2 separate regions of the Homo sapiens genome follow, and region 1 is linked to region 2. Evidence: fine-mapped expression QTL. A gene starts in region 2. The other region holds a variant in brackets. All regions are shown on one strand. Distances are between the middles of the regions. Region 1 overlaps RPH3A (rabphilin 3A). Region 2 holds the start of RPH3A (rabphilin 3A).

Region 1 (5,378 bases), 97 kb before region 2:
TTTGACTTAGACATAAACAGACTCTGACTGTGAGCACAGACTAAACTTGCTCCGGGTCACTGATTGGCTTTGGCTCTAACCCAGGACTGAGCCTTGACCCTGGCCCCAGACAGATTCTTGCCTCTGATCTCAGACTCCCTTAACACAACCAGTATTCTTAAAGGGCAGTCCTTGGGGTCATATGAGGGACCCAGGCAGACAGCATGAAGGCTTAGTTCAGTTTCTGCCATGCACACAGCTCAAAGAATGCATCTACTCCAAGAAAGGAGTGTGCCATTGCCCTAGTCAGTAGAATTGTCAACAAAGCTTCTGACAACAAGGCCAAAAACCTGGTGGGCATCCTGGGTATGAGAGAAAGGGGCTTCCCCCTCCTCAGAGGCTTAGGTGTGGAGAGGACATCACTTGTGGGCAAAGGGTTGTTCTCAAGGCAAATCAACAGGGGGGTGGTTGGAAGAGAATGGATGAGGAAGGGGCCAGGGAGGGAGAGAAGAGGAAGATGCTAGCCTAGCCCAGTACAGACCCTGACTGTGGCTTCAATTCCTGCTCAGTGCTCACCTCTTCCTCATAAAGGGCCATGCCTCGGGCTGACCCGGTGGTCCCAGCACGTTTCATCTTAAAAGAAGAAAACAAATAAAAGATAACATTGTCTATGGAGCTCATCTTCCTGCGCAAGAAGGACCAGAAACCCCTCATACTTCCATTACCATCCAGAGCCATGAAAGTGGGTTCTTAAGCTACTGTGGCTCTCCTGCATTCTCCCTTTTAGCTAAAATTTATAAAACTTAGCCATATGGCAAGCTATGTGAATGTGTAACAACCTATGATATAGGTTCTGTTACAATTCCAATTTTACAAATGAGGATGCTGAGGGTCCGAGTAGTTAAGCCCCTTACCCAAGGTCACACAGCCAATAAGTGTCAGAGCATTCCACACACAAACAGACAAGATTTCATTTTCTCTGGTTGAAGTGGCTCAGGGGTCTTGGGGTCTGACCCACCAGGTGCTTTTGCCTTCATGGCCCCTGGGGCCCTTTTGCTGAACTCTAGGCTCTGGGAAACAGAGTTAGAAAACCATTGGTTAAATCCAACCTCCCCACTTTGGAGAGGAGGAAACCTGAGGTCCAGAGGGGAGGGGCCCTCAGTGGGACATAATGGGGGAAGTTCGTGGTGCAAGGGTTAAGGTTTAATGGCAAAGAGCAAAAGAAGATGATCAGTAGTGTTCTGCGGCTGCTGCAGCCCTCTGGGTGTCCTGCACCTCCATGTCTCTGGGGCTGGCTGCATTCACCATAGCAAGATGGGAAGACCCAAAGGCTGATGACACAGGCAAGGGCCTGGCCATTGTCCTGGCCAACTGGACTCACGGAGTTGGAGAAGGAAGAGAAGCCTGAAGACCCAGCTGTCACCAGGCAAAAGCCCAGAAGAAGGGCCTCATTCCTAGGGATGTCTTTAAGGATTTATTCTGAGCCTGGAATTCAGTGGAAATCCTTCCTTGAAATTTTCCTTGTTTGGTCTTGTTCCTTTGCCTGAACTATAAAACTATGGCATGGCATGCAGACATTCCATCCTCAGGCTGGCCATCTGGTGGGAAGATGCTCCTGCACCCCATAGCTTCCCTGTGGAGAGCAGGCAGGCTGCCCAGAGAGACCAGGGGTGCTGGTGTTGTAGGAGAGCTGGACTCTGGCCAGTGCCCAGAGACCTTGGAGACTTGCTACCCTTTCTGGGCCCAAGTTGGCCCATACGTAAGGCAAGGCAGCCTGAATTATCTCTAAAAATATAGATTGTTGAGTCCTACCCTACCCCACTAAAACAGAATCTCCAGGGGAGACCCCCACAAATCTTAGCTTGTAAAGCTCTGGTTTTAGAATCCCCCGGTTAATTCTGAGGTGCAACCCCATTGCAGAACCTCACTTTGATCCTTGCTATTTTCTCAAAGAGCAAGAATCACATCTGACAACAACAATGACAGTTCTAATACTTCATATGTATTATCACATTCAATCCTTAAAAGATCCTATGAGGTTAGTACTACAGTATCCCATTTTACAGATGAGACATCTGAGGCCCAGAGAAATTAAATAATTTGCCTCAGGTTATACCCTAAGTGGCAGAGCCAGGATTCACACCCGAGAGTCTGGCTGCAGAGCCCATACTCTTAAACTCTAGGCTATGCTGTCTGCTGTTTATCTACATGGTGCTTTCTGACTTCATGACTGACAGGTGGGTAAGGCAGCAATATTTCCTACACTAACAACTGTTAATTTATGAGTGCTTACTATGCATTAAGTTCTATTTTGATTATGTTATTTTTTAAAACACAACCCTCCCAAGAGGCAGGTACTGTTATAACACCCACATTACAGACAAGAACACCGAGGCTCGGAGTGGTTCAGCCCCTTGGCCAAGGCCATGGAGCAGCAAGTGGCAGAGCTGGCTCTGAACCCAGGAAGCCCATGCTGCCCCTGCCATGCTGTCCATCCAGTTTGGCCAAGAAGAACTCATGTTCGAAGTGATGCTGACACAGGGTTTGTGAAAGGCAGAGAGAGAATGCAGCCTGAGGTTGTGAGCTGGAATCTTGACTCTCCTCTGCAGACCTGCTGCAGTGCCTCTGCTACCCAATACCCCGTGGATCTATTTCCCCCAATTCAGACCCAGAGGAAGGCAGCTCCCCCAATCTCCCCTCCTCCCATCAGATCCTCAGGGTAAAGTCACTCACAGGAATCACTCGCTCCAGGCAGATGTTGAAATTCTTCCTCTGGTTGGGCTTCAGTTTCTTGAGGGAGAATCTGGTCTCACCAATAAATTCATTGTGGCCAAATTTGTCCTCATCACAGACGGAGATCCTGCCACCAACACAAGGGGGTAGAGAGAGAAACAGGAACAAATATTAAGACACCACTGTGTGCCAAGAGTTGCAGCTGATACTGGTAAGGAATGTGTAATGTATGTGGAAATAATATGATTTCCTGTTTATTTATCACTGG[A/G]CCAAGTACCTTTAACTTCTTCTTTATTGCAGTATAACTGACATGCAGTAAAGCACATAAATTTAGTTTATAGCTTGATGAACCCTTGCATTTGTATATACCCATGTAATTCCCACCCAGGTCAAGATATAAAACATTCCAGAGACTGAAAGATCCTCAGGATCCTTTCTAGTCACTGCCTGTCTCAAAGATAGCCACTCTTTTGCCTCTGGCCACATGAAGTCATTTGTCTGGTTTTTGACCTTCATATAAATGGAATCATATAATATAGACTCTTTTATGTTGGCTTCTCTTGCTCAAGATTATGTCTGTGAGATGCATCCATGCACAGTATAACTTATCCTTTTTATTGCTGCATAGTATTCCACTGTGTAAATGTACCATAATAATTCTGCTGTTGATACAGGTTGTTTCTAGTTTTGAGTTATTATGAATAACGCTGCTATGGAATATTTATGTTCATGTCTTTCGGATATACATGTACATATTTCTATTGAGTATTTTCCTAGGAGTAGGGTTGCTGGCCATGGACTAGGCATAAGTTTAGCTTCAGTAGAAACTTCAAAACAGTTTTCCAAGGCAGTTCCACCAATTATGTCCCTACCAGCAGTTTATAAAGGTTCTGGTCACTCTTTATTCTCTTTGACTTCAATTATGTCAGTCTCTAATTTTAGCCTTTCTGGATGGGTCATAGTATGTCACTAGTTTTAATTTACATTTCCCTGATGATTAAAACAGTTGAGCCCCTTCTCATATACTTTATGGCCATTTGAGCATCCTCTTTTGCAAAGTCAGGCTAGGAACTTTTCTCATTTAATTTTTCCTATTTCAAAACAACTGCATTTACCATTTAGAGAAGATACTGGGGCCCAGAAAGATTAAATAATTTTTCCCTAATAAGAGGTAGAACCAGGGTTTGAATCCAGGTCTCCCTGAATCCTATAGTAATATATTGCCTTTTGTTATCTACCTTACACAGCATTGAGTAACAGTGGCACAAAAAAGGCAGGTCATAAGAAATGTCCCTTAGGACAAGAGTCTCCAACCCTCAGGCCATGGACCAGTACCAGTCTGTGGCCTGTTAGGAACCTGGCTGCACAGGAGGAGGTGAGCAGCAGGTGAGCAAGCATTACCACTTCAGCTCCGCCTCCTGTCAGATCAGTGGCAGCATTAGATTCTTACAGAAGCATAAACCCTATTGTGAACTGCACATGTGAGGGATCTAGTTTGCACGCTCCTTATGAAAATCTAATGCCTGATGATCCAAGGTGGAACAGTTTCATCCTGTAACCATCCTTCTCCCTACCCCAGTTCATGGAAAAACTGTCTTCCACAAAACTGTTCCCTGGTGCCAGAAAGATTGGGAACTGCTGCCATAGGAGACCAAAAGGACCAGTCACGGCATGATAATTCATCCTGACAAACACTAAGAGAGGAAAGGGCTTATTGTCCTGCAAGGCATGGGAGGCATTCTTGGGGGACAGGAAGGGACTGTAAAAGTACCGCACTCCTTGGCCACCAACATTAGTTGAACAAATGTTCAAAGTCCTGGAGGGCCCAAACACCCTCATAGCTGAGTCCTGCACTGTCTAACACTGGAGAAAAAACTTGTCTCTACTGAGCTGGTTGGGGTGTGAACAATATCATCCTTCTTCAGGGCAACGCATCTCCAAAGACATAAGAGAATAATCACTGTTTTTGACCCTGTAGCACCACTTATAGGAATTTACCTCAAATATATCATAAGGCAAGTACAAAAATATTTAACTACAATGGGTCCAAAAAATAGTTAGAAGGAATAAATGAGATCTAATATTTGATAGCACAACAGGGTGACTATAGTCCATAATAATTTAATTGTACATTTAAAAATAGTGAAAAGAGTATAATTTGATTGTTTATAACACAGGGATAAATGCTTGAGGTGATTAAAAAAGACATTTATTTTAACCCATTTAAAAAACTCATGATGCGATTATTACACACTGTATACCTGTATCAAATTATCCTATATACCTCATGAATATTAATATATACACCTACTATGTACCCTCAAAAAATTAGAAATATATTTAACTACAAAGATGTTTGTCACAATATTGTTTATAACTATGAAAAAAGCAGAAATAACAAATACTGTACAATGGAGGAACTGCTTAAGAAAATTATGAAATAACCACAAAATGTAATAGTGTACATTAGAGAAAGTGTTGTACTTAGTCATCAGGGAAATTTGGAACCACAACGCAACACCAGTGCACACCTACCAGAATGGCCAAAATGAAAAAGTGTTGATGAGGCTGTGAAGCAACTGGAACTCCCATGCATGGCTGATAGGAGTGCACACTGGCACAGCCACTATGGAAAACTGGCAGTTTCTATTAAAGCTGGACGTACC
Region 2 (5,378 bases):
CAGTTGTTAAAAATATTAAAATAAAATATAAATATTAAAATTAAATGGGGATGCTGCCCTGAGGCCTCGTGGCTCTCTTGATAGCCCCCTAAGATCCCCCCAAACCTCTCCATAATCCAGCAATTAAAAGATTAACACTCAGTACAGCAGGGGCCCCCTAAGATGCCCTATTCCAGGACCCTAGCCATTCTGATCGATTAGTACCAAATTTCAATACTTTAAATATCACCCATAGCCAGATATGTGGTTCTTTTTTTGAACAAAATTTCCACACATTCATTATTCACACTCAAGTCTTCCCAGTGAGGAATCTAAGGCAACTTCCTCCTCAAGGTCACCCAGCAAGAGAAGCTAGGAAGAGAAGTTAGGGATTTTGAGAACCAAATCTTTGACACTAACCACCAGACAACCCTCCTCTTCTGCCTCATATGTCCTGCCTGAGCAGGCACATGCTGTGGGATTTCAGCATCTCTTCTTAGCTATGGGGCTAGAGAAAAAAAGAATGAGTGAACCCTGCTTATATTTCAGGCTTGCCAATCTCTGACTGTTGTTTTATTCCTCCCACCTCCAAGAGCAAGAATCTAAAAAGGAAATCCTTGGGGGTGCAGAACACTGAGGTGGCCCCTGAGATAATAGCAAAAATGCTAAAAACAAGGGCATTCATTTCCAGAAAAGTAGATGTAATCAAAGCAGAAAGCAAAGTGAAATCCCCTTTTGATGGGTAGCAGATTAGCATCAAAAGCATTTCAAAATTAAATGTGAGCTTTTGGATTCAATTTCAAGGTACTTCCACTTCCCACTCACTAACAGGTTGGTGCAGCCTTTCCCCATCAGGATCTTGGAAAAAGAAACTAGTGCAGGGGGACGGTCTACCCTGGAACAAAACTGAAGCTGAAGCCTGGAATCTTTCCCCAGAATTTGAACAAGCTTTGTTCCCCTCCTTCCTTCTGAGATGAACTCAAGGATAGAATCTCCCAAGCTAGTGCCAGGACGCTCCCCCATACAATCACTTACAGGTTACGCCACCTGTGAAAATAAAACATCATCTCCTCTGCAGGCAGTGGCTGCTCCCTTCTGGCCAGCCTGACCACTCATCCCAGGCATAGTGTGGCCCTTTCCTGGCTCCCAGGTCTTCCATCTCAGGAAAGCGTGAACAGCCAACCTCGCAAAAATCACCACAATTAAATTACTCAGCTGTTCCTAGAAGAGGGTACAATCTAAGCTCTGTCCTGTGCAAATCTTACCCAGTGTGCCCAGGCAAAAGTTACCCTTCCAGTCTCAGGTGACCCCCTCCCCTCCAGGGATAAGCACTCACTTGCTAAGTCAGAGTACCCAGAGTCCCTCCATGCTAGACTAGCCAGCCCCACGAAGGGTTAACTCTCTCAGAGAACTGCCGGCTACTTTCACCAGCTTCTGCTGCAAAGGAGAGGGCAAATTGGGCAGAAGCCACAATCTTGATCGCATTGCCTACAACATGAGCACATTTTACCCCCTCCCTGGGCACTAAGCCAAAATCTCATTTGGCTTTGGGATGCCGCTTAGGTGATAAAACACTGCAGGATGTAGGCAAATAAGCATAGTCGTTCCTCGATACCCTTCTCCTCCCAACTACCCTTTACCCCACCAGCTCATGAACACACATCACAATTGGGATTCCAACACCCCTAGCCCATCTGCACAACCCGGGAGAATATCACTTACCGCGACGCTGGAGGCTTGCAGGGGGAATGGGTGAGCCAAATTCTTGCCAACTCCTCCCTTCCCTGCCGGGTAGAAAGACGCTAAGTCCCAATGACTTGGTTTAAAAGCTCAGCGGAGGTGCCTGAAAGAAAATTGTTCATTTGACTCTCCTACTCTTCCCAAAATAAAATCAAAGCACCAGTGCACACACGTAGACACACAGACACATCAACTACCCCTAAATCATGCAGGACCAAGACAAAAAGAAATACCACTGCCAGAAGCGGAGAAAACTCGGACCAGCCAGTGAGTCAGTGGACAAGGGACAGTGGCTCCCTCAGACTGTCCTCCACATGGATGAAGGTTTTAGCTCTGTGAGTCTCTCTCTCTCTCTCTCTCTCTCTCTCTCTCTCTCTCCCTTCTCCCTTCCTTTCCAGTCCGCGTAGGCAACTCCGGGCTGCTGGCAGTAGACGAATCAATTGCTTCCCCAGAGCCAGTTTCTGCCGCGGCTGCCACCACTACTGCAAAGCCCTGTGTGAGCAAGGGAAGCGGGGCGGCAGCTTCCCAGTGCAGGGGGAACCAAGCGGGAACCAAGCCTGCCTCCCACCCGTGATTTATGTGTGCGGTGCCTGGAGAAAGAAAGGTGGGAGGCCGGGAGGGGAGGTTGGGCGCACCAGAGATCCCAGCTGGTCGAAACGGCAACCAGGGGATTGGCGGTCAGCACCACGGACAGCGCTAAGATGCCTTGGAGGAGGGGATGGGTGGGAAGCGAACCCCTAGGCAGAGAAGTTAAGTAATTGGATGGTTAAAGCAGAGAAGGGGGGAGTCCGGAGGGGTGGGGGACGGGACTTCTCGACATCACACAGTCTAGTCAGTGACAGCTTACCTACCACACACTTTTTCTAATACTGTCGCTCACTCTCAGAGCAAAGGAACTATAACTTCACAGCCCCTGTCTCCCACACGCCCCCAGTCCTGCATTGCTCCTCTCTGCTCAGACAAGAGCTTGGCACCGGTGTGGGGGGCTCCCTAAGTGGTTTTGCCCCTCAAAGTTTCGCCCAGATGACCTGTCCTCACCCCCATTGCTGCAGATTTTTGACCTGTACCTGGAGTTTCTCAGAATTCAGAGCAGAAAAGCTGAGGCTTAAGAAATGGAAATTTCTAAGGGGCAGGGTGGCTTAGTTGAATAAGCACTTGATGGTTTTCTGGAAGTCAGATCCAGCCCCCTTACAACTCTGGAAAAGTCATTTAATGTTTCCAAGTCCCATCTGTGAAAATGATAACATAATGACCTTATTTTTCCTAAAGATAGGAAGCAAGAGGTTAAAATGCAACAATAAGAATACCCAAGCTGTGAACTGCCATGATTTCATGGTCCATAACCTGTCCTAAAACACAAATGTTTGGACAGAGTGATAAAGGAATTGACAGCCCAGCTAGGATGGCATGTGCCAACCTCACCCTTCAGCAGGTGGTTTGAGTAGAATGAAGGGAAATTTTAGGTCTAAATCAGACCATTGAGCCTTGGCCAAAGAGCCTTCCCCGAAAGATCCAGACTGGCTTTCTGAAGTGAATTCACTATATGGACAATGAAATAAAAGTATCAAAAGGGGAAATATATAAAGATGAATGGATTCCCATGGCTCCCAGTGCTCCATATCTCAAGAGTCCTATTCCTCCTAACTTTGGGAAAGGGCTCAAATTGGAAAAAGGCCAGGAAATCTCAAACAGACCAAGATCTGCTTAGAACTTCTCTGCAAAGTGAAGGAGAACTCTCTCTATTGGAGACTCATATCTAAAGCTTCCCATCCAGATGGCCCAGGGTTAACTACTACATTTGTCACTTACTTCTCCCCATGAGACCCAGGAGTTAAAATGAGAACATTTAGAGCTCATTTAAAAAACAATTTTTTAAAGACAGTGTCTCTGCCAGGCGCGGTGGCTCATGCCTGTAATCCCAGCACTTTGGGAGGCCGAGGCAGGTGGATTACCTAAGGTCAGGAGTTCGAGATCAGCCTGGCCAACATGGTGAAACCCCATCTCTACTAAAAATACAAAAAAATAGCTGGGCATGGTGGTGTGCACCTGTAATCCCAGCTACTCGGGAGGTGGAGGCAGGAGAATCACATGAACCTGGAAGGCAGAGGCTGCAGTGAGCCGAGGTTGCACCATTACACTCCAACCTGGGCAACGAGAGTGAAACTCCATCTCAAAAAAAAAAAGAAAAAGACAGTGTCTCACTCTGTCACCCAAGCTGGAGCGCAGTGGTGCAATCATAGCTCACTGAAACCTTGAACTCCTGGGCTTAAGTGATCCTCCCACCCCAGCCTGTCCAGTAGCTAGGACTCAAGGTGCACACGAATATACCCTGCTAATTTTTTTTTTTTTTTTTTTTTTGCAGAGATGGGTCTCACTATATTGCCCCAGCTGGTCTTGAACTCCTCGCCTCAAATGAACCACCTGCCTCAGTGGTGGTGGTGGTGGTGGTGGTAGTAATTGTCATCATGATGGTAATCATAGTGATGATTATAGTGATGGTGTTGATTGACAATGATTATGCTGATGATGTTGATGGTGATGATTATGGTGGTGGTGGTGGTGGTGGCAATGATGGCTGCTATTGAAAACCTACTATGTGCCAGCTCTTCTGCTAGGAACTTTACATGTATCATCTTCTGAAGTCCTCACCATGACCCTTTCAGGACACTAGTATTATTCCCATCTTGCAAATGAGAAAACTTAGACTCAAGAAATAAAATTCCTTGCTCAAGGCTTCACAGTAAGTTACAGACACAGCATTCAAACTCAGTGTCGTATGATTCCAAAGAACATGCTCCAGGATGTCTCTCAGAGTTCATTTCAAATGCATTCTACAAGTTTGAGGGGAAAATTTTCATCGAATATTTTCTGGGATGATCCTGTGACATAAATTCAGTGTCCTCAATTTACAGATGGAGAAACTCGGGACCAGAGACGAGAATTGACTTGTCCATAATCAAAGAGCTAGGAAGTAGCAGAGTTGAGTATAGAATGCAAGCCTTTCAGATGCCAGGACCTGTGGTCTATTGCCTAGGGCAGTCCCAGGCACATAGGAAACCCTCAATAAACAATATCGTTTGTTTTATTTGAGACAGAGTCTTGCTCTGTCACACAGGCTGGAGTGCAGTGGTGAGATCTCGCCTAACCGCAACCTCCACCTCCTGGATTCAAGACGTTCTCATGCCTCAACCATGCAAATAGCTGGGACTACAGGTATGCGCCCCACGCCTGGCTAATTTTTGTATTTTTAGTAGAGACGGGGTTTCGCCATGTTGGTCAGGCTGGTCTCGAACTCCTGACCTCAAGCGACCTGCCCACGTCGACCTCCCAAAGTGCTGGGATTACAGGTGTGAGCCACCACACCTGGCTGCCTCAATAAACATTTGAAGAGTGATTCAAGAAGCCCAGGGAGAAATGAAAGTCATTTAGGATGCTGGTGGTGGAATCAGAACCCAAGTAGTTCCCAGGCCTCTTGGCTTCCAATCCCAAAGAATTTCTCACAGCTTCCCCAGCCATTAGGCATGTATTCTGGGAGGGCCTCTCATGAATTCAGCTCTCCCTTAGGGAATGACAATAGCTACCACCTGCTGCATACCTAGACACTTGCCATGTGTCACGCATTGTACTAAGCACTTTACAGTGATTATCCCCACACTTCA

The links. PIP is the estimated chance that this variant, and not a neighbour inherited with it, causes the effect.
Region 1: its variant is fine-mapped to the expression of RPH3A in whole blood (TOPMed, PIP above 0.99).

The regions. Positions count from the first base shown.
Region 1 is chr12:112,885,258-112,890,635 of GRCh38, reverse strand. RPH3A (rabphilin 3A) reads right to left here. Exons shown (of 22, transcript NM_001143854.2): 17 at 2,713-2,839; 18 at 556-612. Among named protein-coding and RNA genes, the nearest start is that of OAS1, 19 kb to the left of the region's middle. The variant A/G (reference allele first, on the strand shown) is at 2,981.
Region 2 is chr12:112,788,587-112,793,964 of GRCh38, reverse strand. RPH3A (rabphilin 3A) reads right to left here and starts at 2,217. Exons shown (of 22, transcript NM_001143854.2): 1 at 1,953-2,217; 2 at 1,702-1,822. RefSeq lists an enhancer at 1,584-2,125.